5 separate regions of the Homo sapiens genome follow, and all the other regions are linked to region 4. Evidence: fine-mapped expression QTL. A gene starts in region 4. Each other region holds a variant in brackets. All regions are shown on one strand. Distances are between the middles of the regions.

Region 1 (6,709 bases), 48 kb after region 4:
AATTGGCCCTCCAACATTTCTCTGTTGAACACCTTTAGCAACAAGAACTTGGCTTCTTTGTGTCCATGGAGGGCACGCTCTGGGCCGGCTGAAGCACCAAGCACCTTTTCCCTTTAGCTGAAGGAGCTGGTTCCCGTGAGGATGTGGATCCTCCCAAGACTGCTGACACTTTATGCCTGAGTCCAAGACTCATCCAGATTGACTCTGTCCCCCTGCTCCTCCTGCGTAGCCACTCAGGCAGCAAATAATTTCATTTCCAAAATTTCATTTCTAATCCACCTCCTCCTTTCCCTCTCTGTGAGCACTGTGTTCTGCGCCTTAACATTTCTTGTCTGGAAAATTTCAATAGCCTTTCTTAACTACCCAACGCTTATATCTCACTTGCGTCCCCTCAACGTGCCCTTCCACTGGAAGTTCCAGCAATCCTGAGGCCCTCAGACCTCCCCTCACCTTCGGGACTGGCACGGGCCTCTCCCTTGGTCTCTTTTCCACTCGGAACTCCTATGCTTCCTTTGAAACCTATGTTAGAGAGTCAGGCATGGTGGCATGCACCTGTAGTTGCAGCCACTCAGGAGGCTGAGGGAGGAGGATCGCTTGAGTGCAGGAATTCAGGGCTGCAGTGAGCTATGACCATGCCTCTGAATAGCCACTGCACTGCAGCCTGTGCAACGCAGTGAGACCCCACCTAAAAAAAAAGAAAACTCACCTAAGTTAGATGTCAGTTTCTTCTGGAAGTATTTCCCAAGCTCTTTTCCTTTCCGTTTAAAAGCAATCACCCTTTCTCAAAGTTGTCGCTCTCCCTGGTCTGCAGTGAACTTATCACACTGTGTTGTCATTTGTTTTCCAGCCTCATCCCCCTTCAAGGCTGTCAGCTCGCTGAGATAGGTGCTGTATCTTCATTATTTCTGGCCCTTGGAGCCTGTACAGTCATTGATACAGAAGAGCTGCCCAATAGAGTTCTTACAAATTTTGGCTATTTCTGTTTGGTGTGAATCAAACTCCAGCACTTGTTGGAAGGTGAGTGGAGGCAGGGAGAGGGCACCACAAGCCCTGTGAATCCAGGGTAGGAAAAGCAGGTGGAGATGAGGCCTTCAATAGATGAAGCTGCAAAGTTACTGCTTTGAACAGAAATGTGGAAAAGATCCTCATATCTTAAAAATAGTATCCCTTTGCTTCTGGTGACAGGCTAACTTCGGTGGGTCCATCAGCATTAGGGACCATGGGGGTCATTTCACCAAATCTCTTTGCTCCTTTGTTGAAGAAGTTAAACTCCTCAAGCTCAGATATGTTATGTGCTTAAAGTCTAATTTGGGCTCCAAGGATATTATAAAGTAGCCCCTGAATCTAATAAATCTTTAAAAAGGGGTGGTGTGGGAATTGCTCAAGAAAAGCAAAGTGCCGAAGAGTTAAAAATATCAGAATTCCTCCGTAAGTCTCTAACCGCTGCTCCACAATCTCTTCTGGGCTCTGAAGCCACAAGATGAGGTGACAGTCTTTTCCTCACCCCTAAAAAGGAGGTCAGTTTTGAGCCCGTTACCTCCTACTGTGCCATCAGCCCTTTCCCCACACAGCATCCCCAGTTGTTTTTGGAAGGAACCTTGTGGCATCGTGTGAGTCACAGCCCTGCGGCTCCTACCATCACAGCCTCACACACTCAGGACAAAGAGTCCTTCTCTTTTCTGTGACCAGTTCCCAATAAGTTCATGGTCGGGTTTCTCGCCATTGGTTGAGTACATTATCTGGCTGATAACTGGCTCTTGGTGCCAAGCTCTGAGGTCTGGCAGTGTCTCCCTTCCCGCCCTCCCAGGGCCCCTGGGGCGGCCGTGGGCCGACGGAGCTGCTGCTGTTGCCCGTTGTTCTCATCTCGCTGTTGACAGACAACAGCCCTAGAGAGCCCAGGATGGCGTTCCTCCCCTCGAGTGCTCCCTCCTCAGCGTTGGCTGAGGTTTCATTGGCTGGCTCACGGGAGACAATACTGAATTAGCTTTTTCAGTAAATCGTCTATCTGGAATATTAAAGATGGAACAACTATGAGTTCCCATAGATAAGCTGTAATCCAAATATTAAAAAAATTGAAACCAGATTAATGAAATTGACAGCTGCCGCCAGTATCTTAGAGTTCTAGGTGGAGTTTGGTCCCTGCAAGGTCCTGAGGCTTTGGGAAAATATTAACGCTTAGACTGGGAACTCATACCAAACAAAATAATAGTTTAGCCTGAAGAATGTTTGTATGATCTTGTGTAGTTTCAGGTCAATAATTCTAATTACTGTCTCCATTAAGGGGTTAAATATTAGAGGGATAAAAGTAGATATTGTCTTCCTGACACAAAAATTTATAGTTTTAAATAAAGTAGTAGAATTAGAATTGAGAACACTGAACAAAACAGTTTAATTACAACCACAGGTAACTTTAAAATAGGCAAATTCCAGCCTTACATTATGGTCAATTAAGTATTTGTCAAACAGACACAATAATGATAAGTTCTCTATTCTTTCCTTGTTGTTTGAATTGTTTGGAGTCAGGCCTGTTGGCTATGCACTTCTTAATCTGTGCTGGGGGTTCCTACCAGTCAGTGTCTGATTCGTGTCTTTGAGTCAGCATAACTCACTGAATACTGCAAACCGAGATGCCTTTGCTTCTTCCCCCTTTCAGAAGGGCGTCGACTCCCTGGCCATCATCCTGTGCTCTCAGGCACCAGACAGGGATTATTGTGAAAATTGCCAGTTGAAGAAACCCTGGCTCTGAGAAGACAAATGCCTTATCTGAGGTTTCAGGCTGGGTGCCAGTGAGAACCCATGGTCAGTGCATCCGTCCTGGATTTAGTGTGAGGCAATCAGGGGCCAGTGTTGGCAGCAGAGTAAGGTCTCCTCAAAGATGTTCTAATCTGAAAATCTGTCAATATGTTTCCTTCCATGGCCGGGGGGATTCAGGTGGTAGGTGGAAAAGGTACTAATCAGCTGACTTTAAAACAAGTCCACCTGGGTTATTTTGGGGAGCCCAAGGTAATCAATGTAATCACAAGGGTTCCTAATTGGGGAAGAGAGGGCAGAAGAGTGAGTGTCAGAGTGAAGTAAGATGAGAACGACTCCCCTGCCGTTGCTGGCTTTGAAGATGGAGGAAGGGGCCATGAGCCAAGGAAGGCGGTACCTTTAGATCCCAGAAGAGACAAGAGACGCATTCCCACCCAGCGCCTCCAGAA[A/G]GTAAGGAATCTCTGCTGACACCTTGATTTTAATGAAATCATTTGGGCCTCCAGAAAGGAAGGGAACATAGGAGGTGGAAGAGAAGGAAAAAGAATTGAGTTGAATATAGAAAAATAAATTTAAAGAACAAAGAGAAGCAAAGAAGGGGAGGAACAATCACATTGGAGGGAAGGGAGCAGAGATGAGAGATGTTTGGGATCTTGATTTTTGGTTGACAAAGAGCTTTACTTCTCAGCAATGTGATCCCCTAAAGAGGTTCTACTCAGATCTATTGTTCTCAGCTAGCTTTCAACAGTTAACTAACCAGTGACTTCTTGAAATATGTTTTCTTCTTAGATTTTGTGACTTTGAACTCTCTATCTTGGGTAGTGTTAAAGCAAACTAAATATGGCCAGAGAAGGACTCCAGTACTTTTATATTCGAGTCCTTGTGGACGAACTGCAATCTAACTTAATAGGTAGACAAGATTGAGAACCTAACTTAGGAGTATGCACCTGTAACAATAGCTGAGTCTCGGCTAATCCCAGCAGCCATACTTCAACCATTTATACACTGCTGAGTGTTCAAACTGTGTTTAAATAAGGCAAATGCTGAGCTGTAACCAACCCAGTTGTTTCTGTACATTACCCCTGATTTCTGTACATTACCTCCCTTTGTTTGGTCTATAAATCTTCTTCGGCTGTGCTGGGGTCTCTCTAAATTCGCTGTGATTCTGGGGGCTGCCTGATTTGCCGTTCATTACCCAATGAAGGTCCTTTAAATTTAACTCAGCTGAAGTATTTCTTTTGCCAGACACAGCTTCTCTACATTTACCAGATCTAATGTTTGGAGTTCCCTATGGCTAAAGCTTGGGGCTCTGTTGCTTTCTCCTTCCAGGTGAGCTTATCAATTCCTGAGACGTAAAAGACACACACACCTACTGATTTGTCCTCATGCAGTGTCCGGACTACACACACACACACACACACACACACCACTCTACTTCACATCTTAATTCGGATGTCACTCAGACCTCTCAAACATAACATGTTCAACATAGGATTTTTTTTTTTTTGGAGGCAAACTCTGCCTCCCAGGTTCAAGTCATTCTACTGCCTCAGCCTCCCAAGTAGCTGGGACTACAGGTGCACGCCACCACACCCAGCACATTTTTTGTATTTTTAGTAGAGACGGGGTTTCACTATGTTGCCCAGGCTGGTCTTGAACTCCTGAGCTCAGGCAACCTGCCCACCACCAGCCTCCCAAAGTGCTAGGATTATAGGTGTGAGCCACTGCACCCGGCCTCAACATGGGATTTTAAGTTTTTTCTCGTCATGCCATGTATTATTATTTCCAATTATTTTTCCTCTTCCATGAAAGAGGATTAAACATCCCACCCAGTTCCTAGTTGCTTACATACCTTCTTGGGGAAGGCTCTCCTTACCAGGCTTGCCATGTGTGGTGTAACAAAAATGGACATCTGTTAAATGAGGCTAATAGATACATGTTCTTGGTCCCTAGTTCCTGGCACAGAGCTTCAGAAACCCTTGTAATTTCCTGAGCACTAGGAGTGTCTTTGTGATGCTAATGAGGTGACCCCCGGTGGCCCCTAGGTGGCTTCAGGATGGGGGCTGGTCACCAGAAGGACCAAGCACTTGGTTAGAAAGTTGGGACTTCGGTTGATCATGACCATGGGGATGGAGGAGAGGACCAGAGATTGAGGTCAATCAACCAACTTAATAAATTTAATCAATCTCATGCCCACATAATGACACATCAATAAAAAACTCTGCAGCACAGCCTTGGTGGAAGTTCTTTAGAGGAGTTCATGAACGCACTGATTGATGTCCTGGCCCTGGGAGGGTGATGTGTTCAGATTCCACGGGGAGAGGGCATCAAAATTTTGCATTCCCTCCCAGACTTCACGCTATTTCATTGCAATTTTTGATTTAAGTCTGTTTTTGCTGAATTATATCTAATTATTTCTAATATAACCTCTAATGTAACATCCTTTTAGATTTTCTTTTACTTTCCATTGTTTATTATTGTCATATGCTTTCAAAATTCTTCAAGATTTGAAAACTTAAAGGCGTATGTAAGTGTAGTGAGTAGTTACGTTTCCCTTTCATGCCTAACATTGTTTTGTTCCTTCTTTTCTTCCAACCCTTGGTCAAACTTTCGGAAATTTGTCTATTTTATTAGTCTTCTCAAAGAATCATCTTCGGATTAATTGATTCTTTTTTCTTTATATTGATTTTGTTACTTTCTGCTATTATTTTCTTCCTATCACTTTCTTTGATTTACTATGTAGCTATTTCCCCAATTTCTTTATTTCTTTTTTTTGAGACAGTGCTTGCTCTGTTGCCCAGGCTGGAGTGCAGTGGTGAGATCTCGGCTCACTGCAACCTCTGCCTCCCAGGTTCAAGCGATTCTCCTGCCTCAGCCTCCCAAGTAGCTGGGACCACAGGCGTGTGCCACCACGCCTGGCTAATTTTTTGTATTTTTAGTAGAGACGGAGTTTCACTGTGTTAGCCAGGATAGTCTCGATCTCACCTCGTGGTCCGCCCACCTCGGCCTCCCAAAGTGCTGGGATTACAGGCATGAGCCACCGCGCCTGGCCCTCCCCAGTTTATTTCATTCAATATTTAGCTAACAAAGTTTTAGGTTTCTTCCCCCTTTACTACTAATATAAGCAATTAAGGCTGCATAGTCCCCTCTAACTATTGCATTAGGTATGTCCCAGAAGGTTTTATTTCAGTTCTAAATATTTTTTCATTTCCATTATGATTTCTTTTGATGTATCAATTATTTATGTTTTCAACCTACAAATACAGTTTTTGGACTTCTTTGAGACAGAGTCTCACTCTGTCACCCAGGCTGGAGTGCAATGGTACGATCTGGGCTCACTGCAACCTCCGCCTCCTGGTTCAAGCTGATTCTCGTGTCTCAGCCTCCTAAGTGGCCGGATTACAGGTGTGCGCCACCATGCCTGCTATTTTTTTTTGTATTTTTAGTAGAGATGGGCTTTTACCATGGAGGCCAGGCTGGTCTCGAACTCTTGGCTTCAAGTGATCTGCCCACCTTGGCCTCCCAAAGTGCTTGGATTACAGACGTGAGCCACTGTGCCCAGCCTAGTGTTTGGATTTCTTCATACAATTAATTTCCTACATTATGCTTAGTTCAGAAAACATGGCCTGTATGACCGTATATGAACTTAAACCTGTTGAGTCTCTTTTTTGCTCTCCCTGATTGGAGCTCTGGGCCGGTCTGGCTTCTTTGGCCTCTTGTGCAGTTTTTCCTAGTCCTCTTCCTCTCAGCGTGTCCTTCCAGGAGTTTGCTTTTCTTTAGGGGATCTCAGCTGCAATGCCAGCGACTTTTCACAGGTCCACTTCCTCATCTGCTGATCCTGTTCGACATGAAAACCCAAGCCTCTGCTCCCCAAGAGCCTGCTCTGCCCTACCTGGCAGCGGCCGGACCCCAGGACCTGGACTCGGCATCCCGGCTGCCTCTCTTGACTCCCCACCGCCTG
Region 2 (6,709 bases), 990 kb after region 4:
ACAAGTTTCACAGGCTTAAATGTGATATTTAGTGTTTTCCAAATTTCACGTACACCTGGAACTTCAGATTGTAATCTTCTTTGGAAATAGTGTTTGCAGATATAATTTAGGTAAAGATCAATGTGGGATCCTATTGGATTAGGGTTTGTCCTAAGTCTGATCAGAGCATCCTCATAAGAGATAGAAAAGGGTACATGGAGATATGGAAAAGTCAATGGGACGTTGGAGGCTGAAATTGGAGTGGTTCATCTACAAGCGAAGGAGCTCTGGGATTGCTGGCGGCTACTGGAAGCCATGAGAGACATGAGATGGTTTCCCAAAAGGCTTCCAGGTGGAGGCAAAATTCCTGACAAAATCTGTGACTCCTGGCCTCTTGAAATGTCAGATAATAACTTAATGTTGTTTTAAGCCACTCAGTTAGTGGTAATTTGTTACGGTAACCACAGGCAACTAATACACCCTATAATTGACTTGGACTTAATTTTGGTATACGTATATTTGGTATATGTATAAGGGTAGATGAATCTTGTTTCTATATTCATTTCAAATTGTTCCAGTTAAACCAGAATCATTTATCTAGATTAGCTTTCTTGAATTTTTAGATTCACGCCAAATATATTTTATTCATACTACCTGGATCTTTTAAATTTCCCAGGTTTATAAATAATTTAAATATATGTTATTACACACATGCACATTTTTACTTATCTGATCTTCTTGATGTATTAGCTGATTACTAGAGACTTTTACTTGTTTTTCCTCTAACAACCCTCCTTTTCTTGATGCCTATATTGTTAGATAGTCATATGGTAACTATAGCCTTTATTTGCTTCTCGTTTTACTATCAATCTATTTGTGTGTAAAGTTTATCTCTTTTGCATAAGACTGGCTCTGCTTTTTTATTTAGTCTGAAAATCCTGACTTTCGATCAGTGTTTAGCTACTTTTTATTCAATATCAGGATCAATATAGTTTTATGTAGGCTTTTCCATTTTGCTGTCAGACATTCCTTTTACCTTGTTTTTTTATGTTCCTCCCATCTTGCCTTATTTGCACTTTAATTATTTATCTTTGAAATTATATATTTGCATTGTTTTGTGGTTGTACAGGTTACCAAGATTTATATATCTCTCAATATCTTTGAAATGATATAGAATTACAGCAGGTAAACTATAGACAATTTGCAATGGTATATTTTTATTTTCTCCCATCTTAACACTATTGTCATATATAGCATATGTGTATTATTTATAATGCCATTATTACAGTGTTATCCTTTTTTGTTTTAAACATTAATGCGATTTTCAAAGAAATTAAGGTAAAATAATGTGTATACGTATTTTATATATACATATATGGGATATATACACGGGTACCTGTGTGTATATATTTACTGTAAGTATATATATTATATATACTATATAATATGTAGCATATTTATGTGTGATTCTACATAAATGTATATACATATACAAAGAAAGAGAAGAAAGAGAGAGTTATCTAATGAGTAATTTTTTAACATTTCCAATGTTCTTTCTATTTCCTTCGGAAAGCATCTCTCTTCAGCTTAGAAATTTTTCTCTAGTCCTTACTATATTGCAGATGGGCTTAAGAAAAAAATGTATGAGTTTTCCTCCATATAAAAAGGGATTCAATTAGAGATATAATTTCACTGGGTAGAAACTTTCTGAGAGGTGTTTTTGTCTTTTCATATCAGCACTTTAATGTGTCATTGACTTTCTAACTTCTGGTGAAATCTCAACCACCATGCTTACCACTGTTTCCTTGTACACAACACTTGATTTTTCTCTGAATGCTTTGGAGATTTTGTGTGTGAATTTGATACAACTCGGAATAATTTTTGTGTATATTTGTTGGTTAGATTATTTTGAATTTCTTGAGTTTTAAATAAGTATTTTCAATACTCTTCAGAAAGTTTTTAGCTATTACTCCTTCAAGATTCTCTTTTGATAATTTCCACTTAATCTTATCTCCTTCTGGAATTTCAAGTATGTATGTGAGATTTTTAGTATTATCCCATGCATCCATGAGCTTCTGAGATATGAAACAACTGCAGCACACACAAACCCACACATGTGTTCTCTTGTTTTTCTTTTTGTGTTGAGTAATTTCTATTAATGTACTTTCAACTTCAGTAATTATGTCCTCTCATCTCTAATTACTACTGGTCTCATCTATTGAATTTCTATTTCAGTTATTATAGTTTTCATCTCCATTTGTCTGTTGAACCTTGTGCTTATTAATACTACCATTTTAGAGCTTTTTTTAATTCATAAAACATATATATATGTGGATGTATATAATTGTTGAAGTTTTCATTTGCTTAGTCCTACATGACAACCTTCTCAGTTTCCATTGATGGATTTCTTTTCCTAAATGTGGGCCACATTTTCCATCCTGAATATCTAGTAACTTGTGGTTGAAATCAAGCAGTGCACATCGTCAATAATACATTACTCTGTCAATAATAATCTGATGTTTTCTTCTGACATTTTTGTTATTGTTATTCTAGTGGGTTGTTTACCTGTCTGGAATGATACTGCAATGTTTTCTTCCCTACCATACACAGCTGCTAGTAGTTTTCCTCTTTATGTGCAGTTCCACAGTTCTTTTTGATTTTTTTCAGCAAGTGATATGTTTTGGCTGTGCCCCCACCAAAATTTCATTTTGAATTTTAGCACCCATAATCTCCACGTGTCCACGTGTCATGGGAGGGACACAGTGGGAGGTAATTGAATCAACTGAATCATGGGGGCAGGTTTTTCCCATGCTGTTCTTGTGATAATAAACAAGTCTCCTGAGATCTGATGGTTTTATACAGGCTG[C/T]TCCACAGCACAAGTTTTCTTGCCTGCTGCCATGTAAGACATGCCTTTGCTCCTCCTTCACCTTGCCATGACTGTGAGGCCTCCCTAGCCATGTGGATTTGTGAGTCCATTAAGCCTCTTTTTCCTTATATATTACCAGTCTTGGGGATTTCTTCATAACAATATGAAAATGAATATAGCAAGGCACTCTGAAAAATTTCAGCCTTATATAATTTGGCAGTTAATTAAGAACGTGGGCAGAGGAAGTTCACCTCTGTGTCTCCAAGAGCCTTAGAGTCTGTCCTCTAACTCTTCAAGCCTGCTGCACAAGGTGTGCATGAATTGGAAGTAGAGTTTATTTAAAAAGCAGAAAATGTATCAATATTATGGACTGTAGATCTTTCAAGATTTTGTTCCTATTTCCTATAGGGGTTTCAAAGCCTGTGAGGTCTCCAGTTTATAAGCATAATATTCCAGCTCTCAGTGATTACTGGAGCAGTGCTTACATTGAGCATTTGTGTCTCAGTCCTCCTTCACTTCTCTCAGCCAGCGTGGTCCTTTTATATTCCAGAGACTTTCTCCTCATTCATTCATTCATGTATCTATATCTATATATCTGTATCTATATGCAACTTCCTCTGCTTTGGGTCACTTCTCATGTTTCTAAACAGGAACTCCTTAAAAACCATTTTTAAATTATTTTACCCGTGCAGAATTTTTGCATAACCATTTCATTTCACAGCCATTTACAGAAGCCTAGATACTTCTATTTTAAACAGAAAAAAATAATATGCTATTTTATGAAGCTATTAATTTGGGTGTTGAAGGTAGAGATATCAATTCTGTGTCACTAATTGTGGAAAGTAAGAGAAGTATTCCTCCCTATTCCCAATGGCTCTAATTTCATGGGCGACAAAACATCTTTGAAAAATAGCTGCTTAAAGGTGTTGGCCGACTGACCATGAGGACTGGCCTTGGAGCACCTTTTGGAAGGCATCATGCATATATTGCCTTTCTAAAGTGATGTGTTATAGTGGCAGGACTCCGGTAGGATTTCTCTGGGAAATATCCCACTTTATACATCCTGCTTTGCCAAAGAGGAAGTGAGAAACTCATTTGGAGCTCAGACACAGTGATGTGAGGTGGCGCCGAATGTAACTGCTCCCACGTGAGATTTTTACTTGGAATAGAGTAGCATGAGACAGGAGATGCCACACAGGATCTCCTCTGGTGAGCGAGCAAATTAGTGAGGGATCGCAGCTTTTCAAAACAATAGCGGCAGAGCTGCCAGCAACAGATTTCAGAGCTTGAAGTTGAATGCTGCCATTACTGTTGAGCAGCAGAGGCACATGGTCAGGGGTACCGCACTACCTCTCCATTGCTTTTGCTCCTGTCTGTGTGGCCTCCAAGCCTGATTCTCTCACCCTCCCGCAGATTTCTAATATCCTTTAATATACTCCTCTTCTGCTTAATCTAGCTAGGGTGGGTCATGGTTTCTGCACCTAAAAACTCTAACACATGCATTTCTTCTTAGGCATCAGACTCACTGTTTGGTGAATATAACTAATTTTTACAGTATCTTTTTCATTAGACATCTAGTTTTGTTAGATTTGTTTTTCTGAAAATGTGTATGTGGGGTGGGTGTGTGTGCATTCACCTCTGAAATGTACTGAAGTAAAAACTGGCCCCTTGTGATCCTGCCCTTGCAGGTCCTAATTTTCTCAGATAACAGAGAAGGAAATTTATTAAAAAACTGTGGTGGTATGCAAGTGGTAAGAAATTTAGATTCTAAAACTAAACATTACATATGTTTATTAATATATCATATATGTTTCGTAGAACCCAGCGTTTAAATATTTATTAAGTATTTCAACCATGCAGTATATTGCTTCTGAGGTAAGTCTGCTGTACTATTCCGGCCCTAGTAAATACTTAATGCTTTGACCTATTCCTATTACCATAGGTTACCAGGCCACCAAATAAAACAAGCCAATCCAGCATTTGTCCATACAGGAAAATGTGTGAGCTCCCAGGGATTACTGATCATCCTCTTCAAATCAACCTTCTCTTTACAGAAATGCCAAGTCTGCTTTTTCCCAATGATACAGCAATCTCGGATGCAGAATTCATGAAAGCTGAACCATCTTGTTAGCAAGCCTTCTAAGATACGAAAGGGCAATATCCGGTTCCTGATGGCATGAGATGGTCCCGCCTTCGGGATCTAATAGTGAACTCATGGCTTGATGATGCACGCCACTTTTGTACATTCCTAGCTCCTCCATTTACAAGCTGTTTACATTTGTCCAGTTACTTGTTAACTATTCTGGGACTCATTTCTTCTCATCTGTGAAAACTGAATTATAGTACGTACTCTGCAAAATTCTTATCTGGATTGAGATTTTACCTGTAAAATACTAACTACAACTCCTAGCACAAAATAAGCACTCAGAAATATTGACTTAAAAAAAATAACACTATGCATTTAGGACATTCTAAGATGACGCATGCCTCGTGTACTGATGAAAAGCAGCAGAGAGTACTTTCCAAGGCATTTTCACCACATCCTTATGATGACACATCTCTCCTGCATCTTCGTCCACACCTTTCACAGTGAGGAGTGCAACTCTCTCTCTTTAACATGAAAAGGGACTCATGGCCTCTGTGTTTTGGGCATAGGCCACGTAGTCAGGGTGTTTCGGAAGCATTGTTTTAAGCACTTTATTAACCTGATAATTCATTTTATCTTTTTAGATATGATGCTCTTTTAAGGTTTCCTTGAGATAATACAAATTCTAAACCACCTACTTTCAGGAAACTTGAACTGAATCATGGGGATACTTTGAGTTGCATTGGATTTTAATCCTAGTGGTGCATCCTGGGAATATTTTTCTCCGTCTTGCAGAGCCTGCCCTCCTTCCCTTGCTTTCACAGGTGTAGTGTGTCCAAGTTGTCCTGAACACATTCTGCAGGGTATATTGCCTCTCTGGGATGCCTCATTCTGCAGAGGTATATTGCCCCTCTGGGATGATGCCACTGTGGGCAGCACATCCTGGCACCTGCTTGCTGTGGCCAGCACTTTTATTTGAAACAGAACATTTCATTCCTGTGACATGTAACAATGTGGTCTTATTGTGTAGAAGGTCTTTTTAGAGAATTTTACCTATCTAATTCGGTTCAGGCAAGGTATAATTTGTAAAGGACTCCATTATACGTAGTACAGGGAACTCTGTAAGTCATCAACACCTTTCCCAATCATAATGGGTACTCAGTAGCTTGGATTTACCACATCAGCAGAAATGCAAACAGGTAACAGAATCAGCCTGTGACGAGGTGAAACTGTGGTCTGACAGAGTGAATGTCAGAATAAAATGCATCTTATTATTTGTTAACAGTAAAATACCTTATTTACATTGGCTTTAATCAGACCCTTATCAGTACATGTAAAAACTATTTTGTTTTGCTTTTTAACATCTGGTTTTATTTCAATAGCATATTAAATTTATTACCATGAGATTCTTTTGTTATGAAGCAAGGAATTAGCATGTCTTGCACAATTAAATAGTCTATCGTAAAAACAGGTTGTTGAACTATCATCCTGCAGTCCATATTACCCCCACTCATGTTTTTTAGTTTTGAAATTTAGAAATAAACAGAATGTTTTAAAAATAACAATGATCATTTTAGAAAATATTGGTCATTTTGTTTCCATATTGTTTAATGGAGTCTAAACTTTTAAAAGGGAAATAGTTCTCTTTCAAAGTTGAACTGCCCACATTTCACTCACACACCCACAAATGGAATGTTATGTATAAAAGCTGGTATTCTCACCACTTACAGGCCCCCTGAATGCAATTCTAATAGATGGCATAATAGATTAGAAAAAAT
Region 3 (5,699 bases), 28 kb after region 4:
GCCTTATTCATAATTGCCAAAACTTGGAAACAACCAAGATATCCTTGAGTAGAGGTGACAGGTAAAGAAACTCCGGTGCATCCAGACAATGGGCATTATTCAGTGCTAAAAATCAATGAGCTATCAAGCTATGTATAGACATGGATAAACACTTAAATGCATTTTACTGAATAAAGGAAGACAATCTAAAAAGGCTGCTACTGTAGAATTCCAGATATGTGACATTCTGGAATACTATGGAGACAGTAAAAGGATCAGTGGTTGCCAGGGGTTGTGGTGAAGATGGTGCATGGATGGAGCACAGGGAATTTCTAGGGCAGTGAAACTATCATTCCTGTTGATATTATAATGGCGGATACCTATCATTATACATTTGTCAAAACCCATAGGATGTACAACATAAGAGTGAGCCCTAATGTAAACTGTGGAGTTTCATTAATAATAATAATATTAGCTCATCAATTGTAACAAATGTACTACACTATTGCAAGATATTAAAAATAGGGAAAATTGAGGGTGACAGGATATATGAGAACGCTCTATACCTTTTGTGCAATATTTAAACCTAAAACTGCTCAAAAATAGCTATTTTTTTTTAGAAAACACGAATATTTTAAAAATCATTTATAATCCTTCCATTGTCCCTTTTCATTAAAATATAAAACAGAAACATGTGTTTCACTGATATGACCTGTTTTCGTGGCTGTTTTTTCTTTGCTTAATTTTCCTGCCATGGGGAAGACTGGCTAATTCTACTTTCTTCCCAGTCAGAAATAACTACCAGCAGAGGTTGCTAGAAGGCAGGCATTAGGAATCTTTCTGCTGTGGAGAGATGGGACGGTCCTGCACAGTGCTCGCTTTGCTTTGACGGCCACAGGCATGTCCCTTGGGAAAGCGATCCATGGCAGGGATTTCACAAAGAACTGAGGATCTTTGTATCTCTTTGTGTCTCTGTCTTATGAATATTCCCTGAGAAAGAAGTCAGCCTGGATACCTGACAACAGGCATGAATTCACACCCCTTTTTCTAGATGTTATCATGGAAGGAATGTTGAAAGAAATATGTTTCTTTCGTTTAGTCACCACTTCGGTGGTTAGAAATGTATTTCTAAATGCATTTGTCAAAAATATCTATTTCAATTTAAATATCTATTTAAATTAACACATTTGTTAAATCATTTTATTCTCAGTTTTTTCAGCGTCTGAGATATGTTTAGAGTTGCTAAAAGGTTCATTAAAATAGTTTTGTTAAACTCCCTTAATAAAATTCTGAATGTGATTCACTTTATTCCCAGAGGTTATCCAAGAAAGGAAGTGGAGAATGTTCTTTTTGAAAGCATGAAGTGGGAAAATGTTTAAAACTATTTATAGCAGCACTTAGCTGTGGAAATCCCAGACTTTGCCATCTATTTATAGTTACTCTTTGGGTTAAAAGGGTGAAACCAGAAATCTTGAAAATGCTACATGCTTTTATCCAGCAGTTAAAACTAATAAACTGTCTTTCTGTGGTTATGATAACCAGATACTTATAAGAGTAATTCTGGAAATGACAATAAGTACATCTGGCTTTTAAAAAAAACTGTTTAAATTTAAGAGAGTAATGTTTTCTCCGATTAAGTGATTTGTGTTTGGGTTTCTTATGTTTTCGAGTTATCTGCAAATCGCATTCTCTCTGTAGCATGTGGGATTTCTAATGACAAGTGGGATTGACAAAAATTTGCACACGGGCTAGTAAATCTCCAGTGCTGGTTGGTCATCTGAATAAAAAGAAGGCCAGGTAAAATTACTGGACTTCAAACGCAGAATTTAAACCTTCCTTGGGGGAATACCCATTTCTGAAATTTCTGCCAGGCTATAACCTCAAACTCTGCTCTGGCCTTGAATATATGGCACAGAATTTACACCTATGCAGTGTAGAATATATAATCTATTGGCCTTTAGGAATTTAATTGTTTTAGTTGCTGAATATGTTTTTTTTTTTTTTTTCTGGAGGCAAAAAGACCAGTTAGGAGGTTGTTGCTGTAAAATGAATGTTAAGTGCATATGAGAATTTGGGAGAGGTCAGTGGCCAGCAAGACTGGAGAGGAAGGGATATGTCTGGAGGCTTTTTAGAAGTAGGCTCAGTTGGCTTTGTTGAGGTGTTTGCATGTTAAAATGAAATTCTTCTGCTGGGCGCGGTGACTCACGCCTGTAATCCCAGCACTTTGGGAGGCTGAGGCAGGTGGATCACCTGAGGTCAGGAGTTCAAGACCAGCCTGGCCAACATGGTGAAACCCCGTCTCTACTAATAATACAAAAATAAGCTGGGCATGGTGGCACGTGCCTGCAATCCCAGGTACTCCAGAGGCTGAGGCAGGAGAATCGTTGGAACCTGGGAGGCGGGGGTTGCAGTGAGCTGAGATCACGCCACTGCACTCCAGCCTAGGCGACACAGCAAGACTCCATCTCAGAAAGAAAAGGAAAGAGAAAAAAAGAAAAAAGGACAGGAAAGGGGAGGGGAGGGGAGAGGAGTGAAAGAAAGGAAGAAAGAGAGAAGGAGGGAGAGGAAGGAAGGAAGGAAGGACTTCTAACTGGGGGGAAAGAAGGAAGGAAGGGAGGGAGGGAAGGAAGGGAGGGAGGGAAGGGTAGGAAGGAAGGACTTCTAACTGGGGGGAAAGAAGGAGGGAAGGGAGGGACGGGAGGGAGGGAGGGAAGGGAAGAAAGGAAGGACTTCTAACTGGGGGGAAAGAAGGAAGGAAGGGAGGGACGGGAGGGAAGGAAGGAAGGAAGGGAAGGACTGATTGCTAACTAGGGGGAAAACTGGGGGGAAATTTTGCCCCAGTAATAATGTGAACTTTGGCTTTGTATAAAAATGAAGAGATGATTAAGAATGGATAAATGTCATCCTGGACAACATAATGAGACCTCATCTCTAAAAGAAAATAAAAAAAAATTAGGTGGGTATAGTGGTGCATGCCTGTAGTTCCAGCTACTCTGGAGGCTGAGGCAGGCGGATTGCTCAAGCCTGGGAGGTTGAGACTGCAGTGAATTGTGATCGTGTCACTGCACTCCAGCCTGTGCAACAGAGTGAGACCTTGTCTCAAATAATTAAAAAAAAAATTAAAGAATGGATAAATGCAGTGGTGAAAAAAACAACAAAATCAGGTTGCTGCCTCAACAGCTCATTCTTTGCATACTCCTTACACAAAATCTGACTTAAATAGCAGACATTATTAATCATCATTAATGCAAATCTGTAAATAGAACTCACAGAACTCAATATGCTTTTGTGTCAATCAGGTTAGA[A/CAGAA]AAATCAGACTTCTGAAATGCAATTGTAAATGCAAAATACTCTGAAGCCTTTTCAACTACGATTCTCATTTTTTATTAAATTCCATTCTGCTGCCTGGGTAGTATCACGTAAAAATGCAGCGTAAACCTCTAAGTGAGCATGACACATTCATGCCTGCAAACTGGAGGACGAAACTTACCTGATAACTTCCATCCACCTAAGCCCAGTGATTGCTTCTTCTCAGCTCCCAAAACGCGGGCTGCGTGGGCCATCCATTTGTCACTTTGTGACATGCTGTCCTACGCCACCTCTGACGCCAGTGTCCTTGCTATTTGTTCCTGTAGCAGCCCCATTTGAAGCACTCGTTTCCTGTGGCCACGATGGTGTGTCTGCCTGCACCACCGTAAGTAACCTCTGCTCTGCAGCCTCGCCTCCTCCTGCTGAAGAGTTGACTGATTTCCTTGGAAACCACATGTGCCGCATTAACCAGAAGGAACTTGGGGTGGACAGTTAGGCTCCTGAAGTCCTCGCCCTGTTTTTGCTATCAACATTTGAAGTGATTCTGAACAAACACTTAACCTCTTTAAGTCTCTGTTTCCTCTGTTCTGAAATGAAAGACTGGGCCAAGTACTCTCTAAGGCCTCTCTAACTCTAAATGGCTTCACTCCCTCCCCTTATGCCCCTTCTCTCGACTGGACCGAACTCTGAGGACTATATGGTCCCACTTAGAACCAGTTTCCCAAACCTCTAGATGATATCTACAAGCACACAACCCAAAAGAAAACCTAAGAGTGGCTTTAAGGGAATCTAAACTGGTTAATGAAGAGATGACTGGTCTCATGCAGAAGCTGTTGGCTCCCTTAAAGGGCCCGAGGAAACCACTTGAGAAATTTGCAGAAATAGCAGCTCACAGAGTCAACTTGGCCTTCATGGAAGTTGAAGTGGTGTTTTACATCGTTGGATGATATCAAGATGTAAAACTTTTAGCCCAGAGGCTTTGGAGAGGATGTTGTGGAATATGACTCTACGTCCTGTGCCTTGTCCTTGAACCTTATCGGCTCAAGTCTGCTGGACTTTGCCTCATCCTGTTTGGATGGGCAGGATCCACTTCAGTGGGGCTGGTTGGAGAGGATGGTTGTGTTTTCTTTTTCTTTTTAAACCAACCTTCTTTCCTTCCTTCCTTCCTTCCTTCCTTCCTTCCTTCCTTCCTCCCTCCCTCCCTCCTTCCTTCCTTCCTTCCCTCTCTCCCTCCCTCCCTCCCTCCTTCCTTCCTTCCTTCCCTCTCTCCCTCCCTCCTATCTGTCTTTCTTTCTGTCTTTCTTCCTCCCTCCGTCCCTTCCTTCCTTTGTTCTCTTTCACTTTCTCTCTCTCTCTCTTTTTCAAGATAGGGTCTCATTATGTTGCCCAGGCTTGTCTTGAACTCCGGGCCTGAAAAGATCCATCCACCTTGGCCTCCCACAGCACTGGGATTATAGGCATGAATCACCGTGCCTGCCCAGGGGATGGTTCTTTGTAACAGTGGGGCTGAGTCCAGATTGTCAACAGATAGGGATCACAACTGGAGGCTTGGGACCACTGGGAGCAGGATCTGTGTGTCCTCAGAGCCGAGGTCCTAGAGCAGCTTCCCTTCCCCTGGGTCCCAGGCATGCTCACTGATGGTGGCCCTGGGAGTCACTGTCCCCAGCTAAGACGGCTTGACAGCAAAGGTCCCATGCCTTCATTCATCATTTCCATGACAGAACTTTGGATGGGGAAAGAGGGACAGAGCCCTAGGGACACAACACCCCTTGTTATTCCGGTTAAATCCTCCCTGCAACATTCACAGCTCCCGACCCACTACAGTGACCCCTAGGCCTTGTTAGCCCAGGATTGGGAATATGTGCCTCCACCTCTTCTCCTACAGGTGGACTTGTGTCTCTGAGTAGATTTGGTGATATTTTTTAGATGGGGAGAGAGGTGGGGGAAGGACTACATTGTACTTGAGGCACATGAACTAAGGCCTGATCCCAGTTGCAGCTTCAGAAACACCCAGGAAACCCTCGAGTAGTGAGGGTTGTCTCTGAAAGGTGTCATTGCTTCCTAGAGTCCACCCCATGCCATCCAGGCCGCATTCCCCGCTCCTTCCTGTATACTCTGGGTATTCACACGTTGCCTAAATGAAAGCATGTTTATGGTCACTAGTGTTTCATGTGTCAGGTGTAAAAGGCACCAGAATGATGCCTCTTCTAAAAGTACACATGGATGGGGGATGGGGAGGGTCCTACTGAATTTCTGGGACTGTGAGCCCAGGCACAGTATTTTGGGGAAAAACAAAACCTGCCCAGGTGACTCTGATCTGCAGCCAGGATTGAAATCCACTGAATTGGAGTCATGACAAGAAAACAAGTGATTCAGCCAGTGATCTTCTGTCCTTGGCTTCACTAGTCTCCATCTCC
Region 4 (6,709 bases):
GAATCACGAGAACTTAAGTTCTATTATTTTAAGCCGCTTAGTTTGAGGTGATCTGTTTTGGCAGCACAGGAAAGTAACACAGGTACTTGAATCAATGCCTCTCAACACAGTAGAGAGACTTAACTGGATTTTCAATAGTCTCAAATTACGTGAAATATAAAAAAGCTTATAAAATTCTTATTACTTATTCTAAAGAAATAAATGGTGAAGAAAGTACCCATTTGAGTTTCAGTACCAATGAGAGATTCTGGAAGGACCTAAAAGGATAAACGAGTTATAAGGAACAATTTTAGCAGCACTGACTGAAATATTTCTCTATCTCAGAGATACATATGAAAATAAAGTAGTGAAATTGGGGAAGAAAAAGGTATTTACCCAGAATCCAAGAAAAATCCAACTAAATTTGTTGGAAGCAGGTTTACCTGCCAAGCACAGATCATAAATCTCATGGACCTACTACTACTTCTCTTCAGCTTAAAAATTCTATGTAAAAGAAAATATTCTTCTGCAAGAACTACTGTGAACCACTTATTTTTTAAACCTAGAGTTGAAAGGTGTAAAAATGTCATTTAAAAAAAATTTTATTTTAAAATGCCTCTTTAATATATATAAATTAATAAACCTTTTATTTAAAAACTTATAACCTCTTAAATTACTAAAACTCCCTTCAGAAATGAGTCAACAATACTTTATACAGAACAAGAGAATCATCACTAGCCTTGCAAACGAAAGCTGATAAAAACAATTCAAGAAAAAAAGAGTGTCCTAACAAAACAAGAAAAGCAAGCTAAAAATTTTAATCAAAACATCTCAGTGACAAAGTTAATGGTACAAAGTCACAGGTAAAAAATAAGGTGACAGAACATCACTATAAATCTTTTTCCTTTGGGTCTTATGTTTGAAGATAGCTATTTATTCCTCTATTGATTTAATCTTAACAGAAACAATAAAAAATATTGAAAGGTAGCTTTGTGTACACAGGAAACCCAGATTGCAGAAAAAGACCCTAATAAATTCAAAATACCCTGCTCTGTTACTAAACAGAAAATAATTATTTGTCCCCTCCATACAATAAAAATAAAAATGCAGGAACAAGAAACTCTTGGTTTTAAATTTTTATTAAATGTTCATAACTTGCATTTGATGATCAGTGGGCAATCAGTTCGTTCTACGACTCCTAAAGAACTTCATCAAGGAACACACATTAAACAAAATTTTGAATTATACTTAAGGGTCCTCAGGCATCCTTTCATAAATGCATGAAAATTAGTGCTGGATGCCACTTCCTTTGATTTGAACAGACGGTGGGGGGAATGATTAGATTAAATGTTTTCAAAATCACTTGCTGGGAAATCAAGAAGTAAATCGGATCTCTGAACATCAGGTAAGGTATGCAATTTCAGAAACACTGCTAGGTTTTACAGCCATTTAAAAAAATAAGAACTTGCCAAACCAAAAAATCCTTCAATGGTGTATTCTGCATCATATTGTGTCCTCTTTGAACAAAAATAACATAACCCGCCACAGATAGAATTATTTTTTTAAGAGGTGAATGACTTTGTGTTCTGAGCTTATATCCCATCCCAGGCCAGTTGTCACATGATGTGGAAGTAAAAACTTAATCATGATAAAAATCATACATTTAGACAAACTTGGTGGAGTTACCATATAAAGGGAAAAAATTAGCCTGAATTATTGAAATTTTTAAATGAGGCCCATTTTAAACGTCAACTACCAGGAAACCATGACCTGGAACAGTATCTTTTTTTCTTTCCAAGGAGACACTTACAGACACTGGTTTAAATGGAGGCCCTGGCCTCTCCTAGTTCCTTCCCCCCAAACAACTTCCAACTGGGGCCATCAAGGGTCGATCAGCAGTGCAACTGCAAACTAAATATAGTACCTGACTGACCACAGGGTAAAAACAGCTGCTGTAGGTGGAAAAAAAAAAAGTTAAAAAGACAAAATGATACCGTCCCATTTCCCCATGCCACCCTAACCCTACCAAGAAAAGTAAAAGAGGACTAGGTGGACATTAGGAATAACCAAGAATAAAGCTGTTCTTTCAAACTGAGAAATAAAAGAAAAATTCACCTTTTTTTTTTTTTTATAACACTTCAAATACCTACTGTTAAAGAGGGCCTTCCACTTTTATGGTTTGTTTCTCAAGTTTAATCTACGAATCCAATCTCTACAGAGAAACAGTAACAGAAAGAAAGTAATCAGACAACAGATCACCCACACATTCAAGCCCAGTTAAAGTTGGCAAGAAATGTATCTAGTTAGGCTTCTACGGTTAACAAATGTATTCATTTCTTCGCCCAGCTTTCACTTGTCCAGGGGAAAGAACACAAGACCGAATTGTACTTCTGTTTCAAGAGGTCACTGTAAAAGCGCACTTCGGAGTGTAGACGTCTCCGATCTGTTCCAACATGACCACCTCTTTGGACCAAAGGCCAGAAACTGCTAAACGCGTGCCCTATTATTTAAAACGTGCATCTGCACCCACTTTGCTAAGCAGCATCAGACCCAGGCGAGGGGCGGGGAAAGGGGCGGCGGGTCCCACTCGTAGCCTCAGGACGACGCAGCCACAGCTTCCTAGAGAGCGATCTCGGCAGAACGGCAGGAAGCATGCGGAGAGGAAGGCGGGGAGGCGGCACGTGCTCTCCGTGCTGGGTCCGCCGGGCCGGCCGGGTGACCCTCGCCAGCTGTGGGGGAGCGGAGAGGTCCGCGCCCCCGGGAGCTCGGGTGGACGCCGAGACCCGGGAGCGGGAGGCGGCTCACCTGGACCCCGGTGTAATTCTCGAAGAAGAAGAGCACCATGCTCTGGTAGACGCAGTAGAGCCGGTCGTCCAGCGCTTGGTAGAAGCGGGCGGGCAGGAAGGCGGAGAGCAGCCGCCAGACCCCCCAGGCCAACACGTAGGTGGGCGCCGTGCCCAGGAGCACGACGCTGGGCAGCAGGTAGCGCATGGAGTACGTGTGGAGCACCAGGGACAGCAGCATCTTCTCAGCTCGGCGGCAGCGAGCTCCGCCTGCGCTCCCCGCCCGCCTCCCGGGCCTCAGTCGCGGCCAGCAGGCGGCCAATCACCGCCCGGGCCCGGGCCGCCGCGCCCGCCACCCGCTCCCAGCCTCCGCCCCCAGCCGCATGGGCCGCGCCGCCGCCCGGGGCCGGGTAGGCGAGTGCGGGGCTGCGTGCGCCGCTCCCGGCGGCAAAGCAAGGGAACCCGCGGCCCTCCCGGATCGATGGCTCAGGGATGCTCACACCCCATGACCCTCACCCATCGCCACATCCCCCTGCCGGGGCAGGGGGCTCCGCGGCAACAACGCGCCTTCTGATTGGTCGCCCGTTGCCATAGTTCCACCTCGGCGGCAATAACACGTCTCTTGATTGGTTGGTTTGGGCCGACAGTTGCAGTACAGCTACCTGCTGGGGCGCGGGCAACCCGGCTCCGGCCACTGCGCATGCTCCCCAGCTGGGCCGGCTGCGGACGCGGGAAGGGAGGTGGTGGCGACTGACGGAACTGGGTGAAGGTGGGTGCTGGCCGGAGGAGGGTCCGGGTGCCTCTTGTTCTGCTCCCTCGGGCCGGACGTGCGCGCGGTCAGGTTTAAGGGTCGCTGGAGCTGCCTGGAACGCGCACCTGCTGCTCACAAGCCCCTGGGCGCCGGGATGCACACAATTAGAGCAGTGAGAAAGTGGGTGTTAACGTTATCGGAGGTCTAATTCTTGCAGGCACCTGGGCCCAGGTTGTAGGCAGCTCGGCCCAGGTCGCGGGGCAGCTCGAGTGTCCCCATCTGCTCACTGCCAGTCCTTTGCAAGGGGACGCCGCCTCCTCAGCCTCCGCTCTGAGTGCGCAGCAGCCCCTCCTGCCCGTCTCTCGCTACCAGGGTGTTTCAGAATTAGGGTCCGTGTTTTTCCCCATCACAGTAATGATGATAATTACATGTTTATGCATAGCTGAAGAACAATCCCACAAGGATATTTCCATACTGTTTATTAGACCTTTTCAGAATTCACTCTTGCTTCATTTCCTCAGAGTCTGTTGGACTTGTTTCTGATTTTTTTTTAATAAGGAGCCTCGTTTTTTTCTGTAGTAATTAAAGTAGTTGCGTGCACATGTGTAATCCATAAAAAGCATACTTTTGTAGCCTTCACTAAAAGCTACGAAGGGTGGATAACTGTTTTATTGATGTTAAAGCAGATCCACAGGACTTTTGGATCTTTCTCCTCCCCTTTGGCTGTGGTAAAAATGGTTTAATATGTAACCCTTTTCAAGGATAGTTGTACTTTAAAAGAATGCCGAATGCTTTACCATATATATATATATATATATATATATATATATATATATATTCCCGCCCCCTCCCCACCACCACCATAATGGGAGCCTGTGCTACCTTTAGGCAGGACGGTATTTCAGTGGGAAGTTCTAATCAGGGCCAGGATGGTAGCTACTTTCTTTATACATGATTAACATCAAATAACAACATCATTGGTAGATGATGACCTTTGGGGACAAAGCCAGGTGAATGGAGATCTCTCAAGTAACAAGTATTTGAAGGCCAGCAGGAAGCATTACACAGTAAAAGGAGCTTCTCTCTTTCTGTGGCTGTCATTGTCCTGTACTGTAAGAAGCACTAGGTTTAGTACTGGTGGAAAAAAGTCACAGGTGTGGACAGTGTGCACAACTAATGCTCCTTATGCTTTCTTTAACTGAGACCAGACATCTCTACACTAGAACAGTGTGCGAAAAGATAAAGCAGGTTCTGTGTTCACGTTAGGATTGCTGTGTATAAAGTCAGTAAATATGTGTTTATGTGTAAATTTGTTGTGAATCACCCCAGATTACTGTTAGTCACGAAGTTGTAAACTTTTGTGCAATGTTTGCCATGAAAACACAGAACTTAACTTTCTCTTGTTCCCTCTTTATCTCCAAACCCAGCTCCTGACTATCAGTTATTGTCTGTCCTGCTCCCGCTCCTCTCTTCCTGCGAACAGTCACAGATCCACCCTCTCTTTCTGCCACTACCCGGCCCTGTTTTTCTGTTTTTTTTTTTTTCCCTTTTTCCGTGCAAACCTCTTAGTTGATAATCAGCCCACACCCTCTGCCTCCTTACCTTGTACTTTTGTTGAGCCCTTGCAGTCTGATGACCTTTTCCTCCCCTTTACTGGAATGGTGCTTCTTTCAGAGCACAGCTGATTTCCTCCTTTGCATACCCTGCTGGGCACCAGTGGAACAGTGAAAGGTGAATTCTGTCTATGCCTTCCTTGTACAACATTTAACAAGGAGTTACCTGTGGGATGAAAAGGGGACATTCTTGGTTCTCTGGGAGCATATATCAAGGCAATCTAATTTAGTCTGGAGACAAGGAAGACTTCTCAGTGAAATGGTATTTCAGGTGAAGCTTGAGGGACTTAGTGGGCTTTCCATGGGAGAATGGCACATTTGAACGCCTGAAGCTGAGAAATCACCATATTCTCATGCATAGCACTGGAGTGGGCCACAGTGTTCTTTTTAAAATTTGTTGAGATGCCCCTTGAAAGAATGCTGTGTATTCCCATCACACATTCTTAAACTGATATTTAAATGTTTTTCTCAGCTGGGCATGGTGGCCTATACCTGTAATTCCAGCACTTCAGGAGGCCAAGGAGGAAGGATCACTTAAGCGCTTTGTAGAGTGAGGCCTCCATCTCTACAAATATATTTTTTTAATTAGCTGGGTGTGATTGTGCATGCCTGTAGCCCCAGCTACTCAGGAGGCTGAGTTGGGAGGATTGCTTGAGCCCAGGAGTTCAAAGCTGCTATGAGCCATGATCGCGTCACTGCAATCCAGCCTGGGCAAAAGAGAAAGAGTCCATCTCAAAGAAAAAAAAAGGTGGGGAGAGGGGGGCTTTTAATGATAAATTTAAAAAGGCTTTTAATTATAAATTTAAGTAGTTATGAAGTTCTGATGAGTTATGAATGATGTTTTGAAAATAAAGTGATTACAGAAAATTTTTAAATGTATGCAGTGAGTTATAAATATTATAGTGACTTAATATCCACCCCATCATTCATTTCAAAAATACTTAAGCCTTTGACCAGTTGAAAATTTTGCATTGATTATTTTTCTCCCTGAAAATATTTTTATTTCACTTCTACCACAGGATTCTATCATAATTGAATATGCTCTATCCTTCAAAGTTTTTTACTGATCAGACTGTATCATTAGGGTCCTAAGAAGCAAATTTTCTTCTGGATTGAACTGTTACTATTATTAGCAATACACAGTTTAATCAATGTGTTTCACAAAATCTGATAAGGAATTGTAGGCAAAAAAAAAAAAAAGTTACAAGAAATGCATCTCTTAAATAAGTTATCTCTGTTGGTGTCCTAAGGTTTATTACACCTTTCTACCTCAGCAGGGCAGCACAATGTAGTAAGATTTAGGATGTGCCAGGGGGGAGAGGAGCCATTATGAAATGCCAGGTGGGCCTGGACTGCAGGAGTCCTCAGACAGATCACTTTTAGAAGAGTTGGGATCTGAAAACTGAATCCCTTGAAACTCCTCATGACCACGTGTCCATATTCTCAGGGATACGCATGCCTCCATTTGAAGATTGTTTTTACAGAAATAATTGGGGTAAGGAAAGGAGACAAGGATGCTAGGGATTGAGTCTGGAAAGATAGGCAAGAACCAGATGACAGCAGGGTCTTGGGGGACACATAAG
Region 5 (5,757 bases), 38 kb after region 4:
TGGGTGTTAGCCCCTCATCAGGTGAAGTTTGGCCAATATTCAAATGATCAGAGACAGGTTGTCTCTTCACTTTGTTGTTTTCTTTGAAGTACCTAAGCTTTTTAGTTTAATATAGTCCCATTTGTCTATTTTTGATTTTGTTGCTTATGCTTTTGAGGTCTTAACCATAAACTCTTTGCCTAGACCAACATCCTGGAGTGTTTCCCCTGTTTTCTTCTAGAAGTTTTCTAATTACAGGTCTTAGGTTTGAGCTTCTTTTAAACCAGTTTGATATCTACAAATATCTTCTAATAAGACAAGAACTTTACTATGCTCTCATATCTTTTGTTCTTGCCATCTTCTGCCAACCCATTAATATTGGCATTAACTAACTTTTAATTCTTAGTTGTAAGGATGTATTTTTTCTTGTTAGTCTTATCAATTTGTAAAGATAACAACTCTACTAAGGTATAAAGTCATTTTTCCTTCAAGAATTTCTTGGAATATCTCTTGAATTTCCTTCACTTTTTAGTTAGTTTTTCAAAACTATTTTCAATGTGACCTTTTCTACAAAATCTTGAAAGCACTTGTATGCCTGAGGAAATTCATCATCTCATCTTATTTGAATGATAGTTTGGCTGGATATAAAATTCTACATTTTTAAGTTCTTTTCCATCAGTATGTCGAAAATAAGATTCCAGTTATCTTGCATCCATTGTTGCTGTTAACAAAGATGATATCAAGCTGATTCTTGTTCTTTCATATAGCCTCTTTCTTTCTTTCTTTCTGTGGGCTTTTAGAATTTCTCTGTTTTTTTCATGCTCTTACATTTCAGTTTAGTACGTGTAGGTGAGGTTTTCCTTATTCTCTTTTGTGGTGCTCTACGAGTCCTTTAAATCTGAGGTCAGTCTTTTCATTCTGGGAAACTGATCTGAACTACTTCTTCAAATATTTTCCCCTCTTCACTTTTTCACTCTTGTCTGAGCTGCCTATTACTTATCTGAATGTTTACGTTTCTTTTTTATTCTCATATTGCCTTAAAATTTCACCCCTACTTAATCTGTCCTGTCCTTTCTCCCTTTAAGTCTGTTCCAGTCTTTGTGATCCAAATCTTATATTTCTTCCAATGAAGAGAGGAGAGAAAGAGAAGAACTTAAGTGTTTTCTTGCATCTTCAACCTCTCCCTGCCCTTTGTATTATTTATATGGTGCCTCATTGAGTTGCAGGCACAGGGGATGTCCCTGTATCTCTGACAAACACTGATAGAGAGCTGAGGATGCAGGACCTCAGATCCCATCCCACCTCTGCCATTCTAGGACTAACAGACCCCTTGCTACTTTTCTGGGTCTCATTGGAAGAAGGGACTCATTTACCCTTTGTCTTCCCCACTCGCCTGGGTGCACTCAAAAGACCTGAAGCTCTTTCTGAGGCAGTGGCTCAGTGGTTGGGGGAGCTGAAAAGGGTTGGGCATCTTGCAGCCAAGTTGGCGGGTGGACTTCCCATGTACCACAGTAGCCCCAGTGCTGGGGGTTCGGGGGCACTGGCCTAGCATACACCACACTTCTTTTCCCAGGCACATCACTCTTAGCCCTCAGAGAGCTTCTTTTATCCCCTTCAGACCCTGGCTGTGGGAGAGGTTGTCCTTGCAGAGGTTGTCCTGGCAACCTTTGCCCCCATGGAGTGTGTCATGCCTTTGCTGGCATCACCTCCCCTGTAAAGTCATAGCTGCACTGCTTCTTGGAGCGCTTGGCCACATGAACCTCACTGTGCCTCTGCAGGGGTGTGGAGGAAACTAGAAAGAGGCCTTGGGCTACCCATATTCCAGGCTGGAAAACACGAGGGCATCCTGGCAGCCACACTGCCGACCTGGGATCCTGAGGCCTGTGTCTCTACCTACCCATTGTTCCTCGGGCATTGGGAACACCCATATTCTGGAACACTTTCCTAATCCACTTCCTTTTCTACTGCAGAAGCCCTGATTCCTCCCACATCCACTCCCTCTGCTCTCTTTTCTTCCTAGGGCCACTGCAACCTGGCTCCATTTCTTAATCCCCCAAGTCTTAATCCTCTCAAGCTCTGCCATCCCAGTGGTCCCCCGAATGGGAGCAGCCAGGACATTGGAAGTATTTGAGCTAAAACTGAATATTTTATCAGAAGTTTGAACTCTGGGTGGGGAGGCAAGAATGATTGACCTGGGTGAAATGTTCGGTCCCTCCCAATCTTCAGATGCTTGGAGGATCTGCAGGTCATCCTGTGGGAATTGCCTTTTCTCCCTCCACCCTGCACCACCCTCCACCCCCGACCCCCTGCCCAGCCAACTATGGCCCCTATGTCTGCCCCTAAGAATGGGGGGCCCTGGCCCACTATGGCCCCTATGTCTGCCCACTGACTGGCTGCCCTGCAGGCCAGTGGGGTTCAGTTATTGCCTGACTGCTTCCTTTTCTTGCTCCCTCTAAAGGGTGTGGGTGGAGCTGCAGAGAGAAGGTGCCTTTCTTGTGGGGAGGCCACAGACCCTCCTCCCAACTCGACACAGTGTCCACCCAATGGGACCAGCTCCTCCCATCTCCACACCCTCCCTCAGGCCAGTAGTCAGTTTAGGAGAAAGTCTAAATGGCCTGGCAAAAAAATGGAGGAGGCCTAGGTTAATTATCCAGGGCCCTGTGGGCTATGTCTTATTGGAAAAAATGGCTAAGAAAAACGGATAATCTACAGCATTTTTTTATCATTTATTTCAAATATACAGCACCTCAATTATGCTATGGATAATAGTTATATAATGGTCAGGCCAGGAAGCCAGTACCCGCTGAGACAGTGTTTCTGTAGAATCCCAAATGCTTGGTTCATTGACTTATATAACACCCTGTAATTTGGGGGCTGTTGGTGTTTTGTAACTGTTGAGATGCAGAAATGAGTGATTTC[T/C]TTTGAATTCTTTTACTTCTAGGCAGCAGTCTGTCAACAACTATGGCATCCAGCTGGTCAGAAAGACTAGAGGATTTGACATTTTGCGGCTGTTCTCTAGAACCAAAGAAATGAGAACCTCTTGGTAAAATCCGCTGGTCCAGGAGTTATTATCTCCTGGATTATCTGCCAAAGAAATTATCTGCCAAAATTACAATGTAAAACTGAAGAAGACAACCGATAACTCAGTTAAAATTTTGGAAAAATACAAAGAAACTGTGACTGGGGAGAAATGGTGAGGGAAATTTTCTCGTTGAATTAGAGGATCAGGAGGGCTAAAGGGAGCCCTCATGCTATCAACCAAAATCTCTGTTAAATTCCAAACATAAAATATCTTTTCTCACTGTTAAAATGTCTAAGCAGTCTCCACTAGCAGCCCCCGTCCTGGACACAGGAGCACTGCCCTGCCTGGCCGTCAGGTGCTCCCATAAGCATCATTCAGACAGCGAGGGGGGCAGTGGAGGATTCGGGGGCAGGAGATGGGGTGGTGGAGAGAAGGATGTAACCATCAAAAGTCCATTTTCCCTGCTGAAGCTACCCATGGAACTTTTAAATTGGGTGCAGATTTAAAAATTAATACAAAATATTTGAATAATCGGGGATGTATCAAATGTTCATAAATTACAGCTCCAACTAGGAATGCCTAAGGAACTGTTCCTTCCGTTTAATTGTCCTCTTTGTCTATCAAAAAGACAGCCACTCGCGTGCCTCTTCTAAACAGTCAAATACCATCCTAAGCTCTCATGGAAAATCTCAAGAGGCTTATTGGTTGACTAATTCTAAACCTCTGTTTGCTCAAAGGACAGTGTCAGCTACAATTTTTCATTTGCTTTTGTATTCCATTTATTTTTCTTTACAGCTTTGGGAGATGTGTATTATACTTCTTTTCTTTTAATGATTATCTTGGAAATTGTTTATATATACTTAACAGTCTACAGTGAAGGACTATTTACCATCCTTCTGAATAACACAAAGATTTTAGGACAGTGGTCCCCAGCCTTTTTGGCGCCAGGGACCAGTTTTTCCATGGACCAGGGTGCAGGGGGATGGTTTCAGGATGATTCCAGCACATTACATTTATTGGGCACTTCATTTCTATTATTATTACATTGTAATATATAATGAAATAATTATACAACTCACCATCATATAGAATCAGTGGGTGTCCTGAGCTTGTTTTCCTGCAACTGGATGGTCCTATCTGGGGGTGATGGGAGACAGTGACAGATCAGCAGGCATTAGATTCTCATAAGGAGCATGCAACCTAGATCCCTTGCATGCACAGTTCACAATAGGGTTCACACTCCTATGAGAATCTAATGCCACCGCTGATCTGATGGGAGGTGGAGCTCAGGTGGTAATGTGAGCAGTGGGGAGTAGCTGTAAATACAGATGAAGTTTCGCTCATTTGCCTGCCCACGGCTCCTAACTCTTGCTGTGCAGCCCAGTTCCTAACATATCCGTTGGTGGCCCAGGGGTTGGAGACCTTGTCTTAGAATGGTTTTCCTCCGTTGATCACTGCTTCTAGCTTGTGTGCTACTGGGATACAATATTTTGAATCAATCTCTGTTTTTAACCTCACAGATTGTGTAATTATCAGTATCTGCTTAATATGTATTTAGATTAGTCATATGTTTACCATTTTGTTTAGCTGCCAAACGTCATTGCATTTCAGACTTTCTTTCTGGGAGCGTCTCATTCTTCCTGAAGTACATCATTTAAATGTGCCTTTAAGTTTGGTGGCAAACAGTCTCAATTTCTGTTTATCTCAAAGTGCCTTTATTCTACCTCATTTTTGGTAGTTTCACTGGATTTGTGATTTTTAAATCTATAATTATTTTCTAGCACATTGAAGGTATTTCACTTTCTTCCATGTTCCATTGTTATTAAAAAGACTCCTGTCAGTCTTATTGACATTCTTTTGTAGATAATCTGTTTTTTCACTATTTTATCTATGTATGAATTTAATCTATTTATGAATTTCATCTATGTATTTCATCATGTATGAATTTAATTTATTTCTCTTGCTTGATATATTATATTGCTTCCTGAACTCTGAAAAATTCTTGGCCATTATTTCTTAGTCTATTAAATATTCTTTAAATACTGCTGTCTTGCTGTTACTCTACTATTTAATTCTGAAACTTAAAATGAATATATGTTGGACTTTATTTTTCATTTTCTTAACTTCTCTTGCGTATTTTTAATTTGTCTTTCTGTTACGCATCCTGAGCAATGTCTTTGGATATAATTTCCAGTTTACAAATTCTCTTTTGAGCTGTGTCTAATGTGTTATTTTTTAAAATTTTTTTCAGAGACAGGGTCTTGCTCTGTTGCCAAGGCTGTAGCACAGTGGTGCCATCATAGCACACTGCAGCCTCTAATTAGCAGATTATGTTTTCATAAAATGTTTTTTATCTTTGACCATTTAAAAATTTGGGAGTTTATCTCTCCTCTCCTTTCCTTTCCTTCCTTCTCTCTCTTCTTTCTTTCTTTTTCTTTCTTTCTCTTTCTTTTTTTCTTTCTTTCTCTCTCTCTTTCCCTCCCTCCCTCCCTCCCTCCCTTCCTCCCTCCCTTCCTCCCTTCTTCCTTCTTTCCATGAGATCTTCCTATGTTGCCTAGGCGTACCACCTATTTACTTACTACCATTGCATAAGTCACTTATCTCTCTCTCCATTTTGATTGTCTGAAGCTTGATGTCGACTAGATTTCTCAGGAAAGACTCAGCAATAATAGTCCCTGAGTTCTGGCATGTTGATAAAAGTTTGTCTTTTATTAATTAGATATAAAATTCTTGTTTCATATATTCTTTCCTTGAGT

The links.
Region 1: its variant is fine-mapped to the expression of MCPH1-AS1 in fibroblasts (GTEx, PIP above 0.99).
Region 2: its variant is fine-mapped to the expression of MCPH1-AS1 in substantia nigra (GTEx, PIP above 0.99).
Region 3: its variant is fine-mapped to the expression of MCPH1-AS1 in whole blood (TOPMed, PIP 0.97).
Region 5: its variant is fine-mapped to the expression of MCPH1-AS1 in whole blood (INTERVAL, PIP above 0.99). The same link has a PIP of 0.9 or more in prefrontal cortex.

What each region holds. Positions count from the first base shown.
Region 1 is chr8:6,656,714-6,663,422 of GRCh38, reverse strand. The region is part of intron 1 of MCPH1-AS1 (MCPH1 antisense RNA 1); the gene reads left to right. Among named protein-coding and RNA genes, the nearest start is that of MIR8055, 38 kb to the right of the region's middle. The variant A/G (reference allele first, on the strand shown) is at 3,201.
Region 2 is chr8:5,714,833-5,721,541 of GRCh38, reverse strand. No RefSeq gene overlaps it. Among named protein-coding and RNA genes, the nearest start is that of MCPH1-DT, 690 kb to the left of the region's middle. The variant C/T (reference allele first, on the strand shown) is at 2,846.
Region 3 is chr8:6,677,715-6,683,413 of GRCh38, reverse strand. The region is part of intron 1 of MCPH1-AS1 (MCPH1 antisense RNA 1); the gene reads left to right. Among named protein-coding and RNA genes, the nearest start is that of MCPH1-AS1, 28 kb to the left of the region's middle. The variant A/CAGAA (reference allele first, on the strand shown) is at 3,285.
Region 4 is chr8:6,704,963-6,711,671 of GRCh38, reverse strand. MCPH1-AS1 (MCPH1 antisense RNA 1) reads left to right here and starts at 3,463. Exons shown (of 5, transcript NR_125386.1): 1 at 3,463-3,531. It overlaps AGPAT5 (1-acylglycerol-3-phosphate O-acyltransferase 5), which reads right to left and starts at 3,030. Exons shown (of 8, transcript NM_018361.5): 1 at 2,785-3,030. The coding sequence starts at 3,003. RefSeq lists silencers at 2,637-2,876, 2,937-3,276.
Region 5 is chr8:6,667,404-6,673,160 of GRCh38, reverse strand. The region is part of intron 1 of MCPH1-AS1 (MCPH1 antisense RNA 1); the gene reads left to right. Among named protein-coding and RNA genes, the nearest start is that of MCPH1-AS1, 38 kb to the left of the region's middle. The variant T/C (reference allele first, on the strand shown) is at 2,899.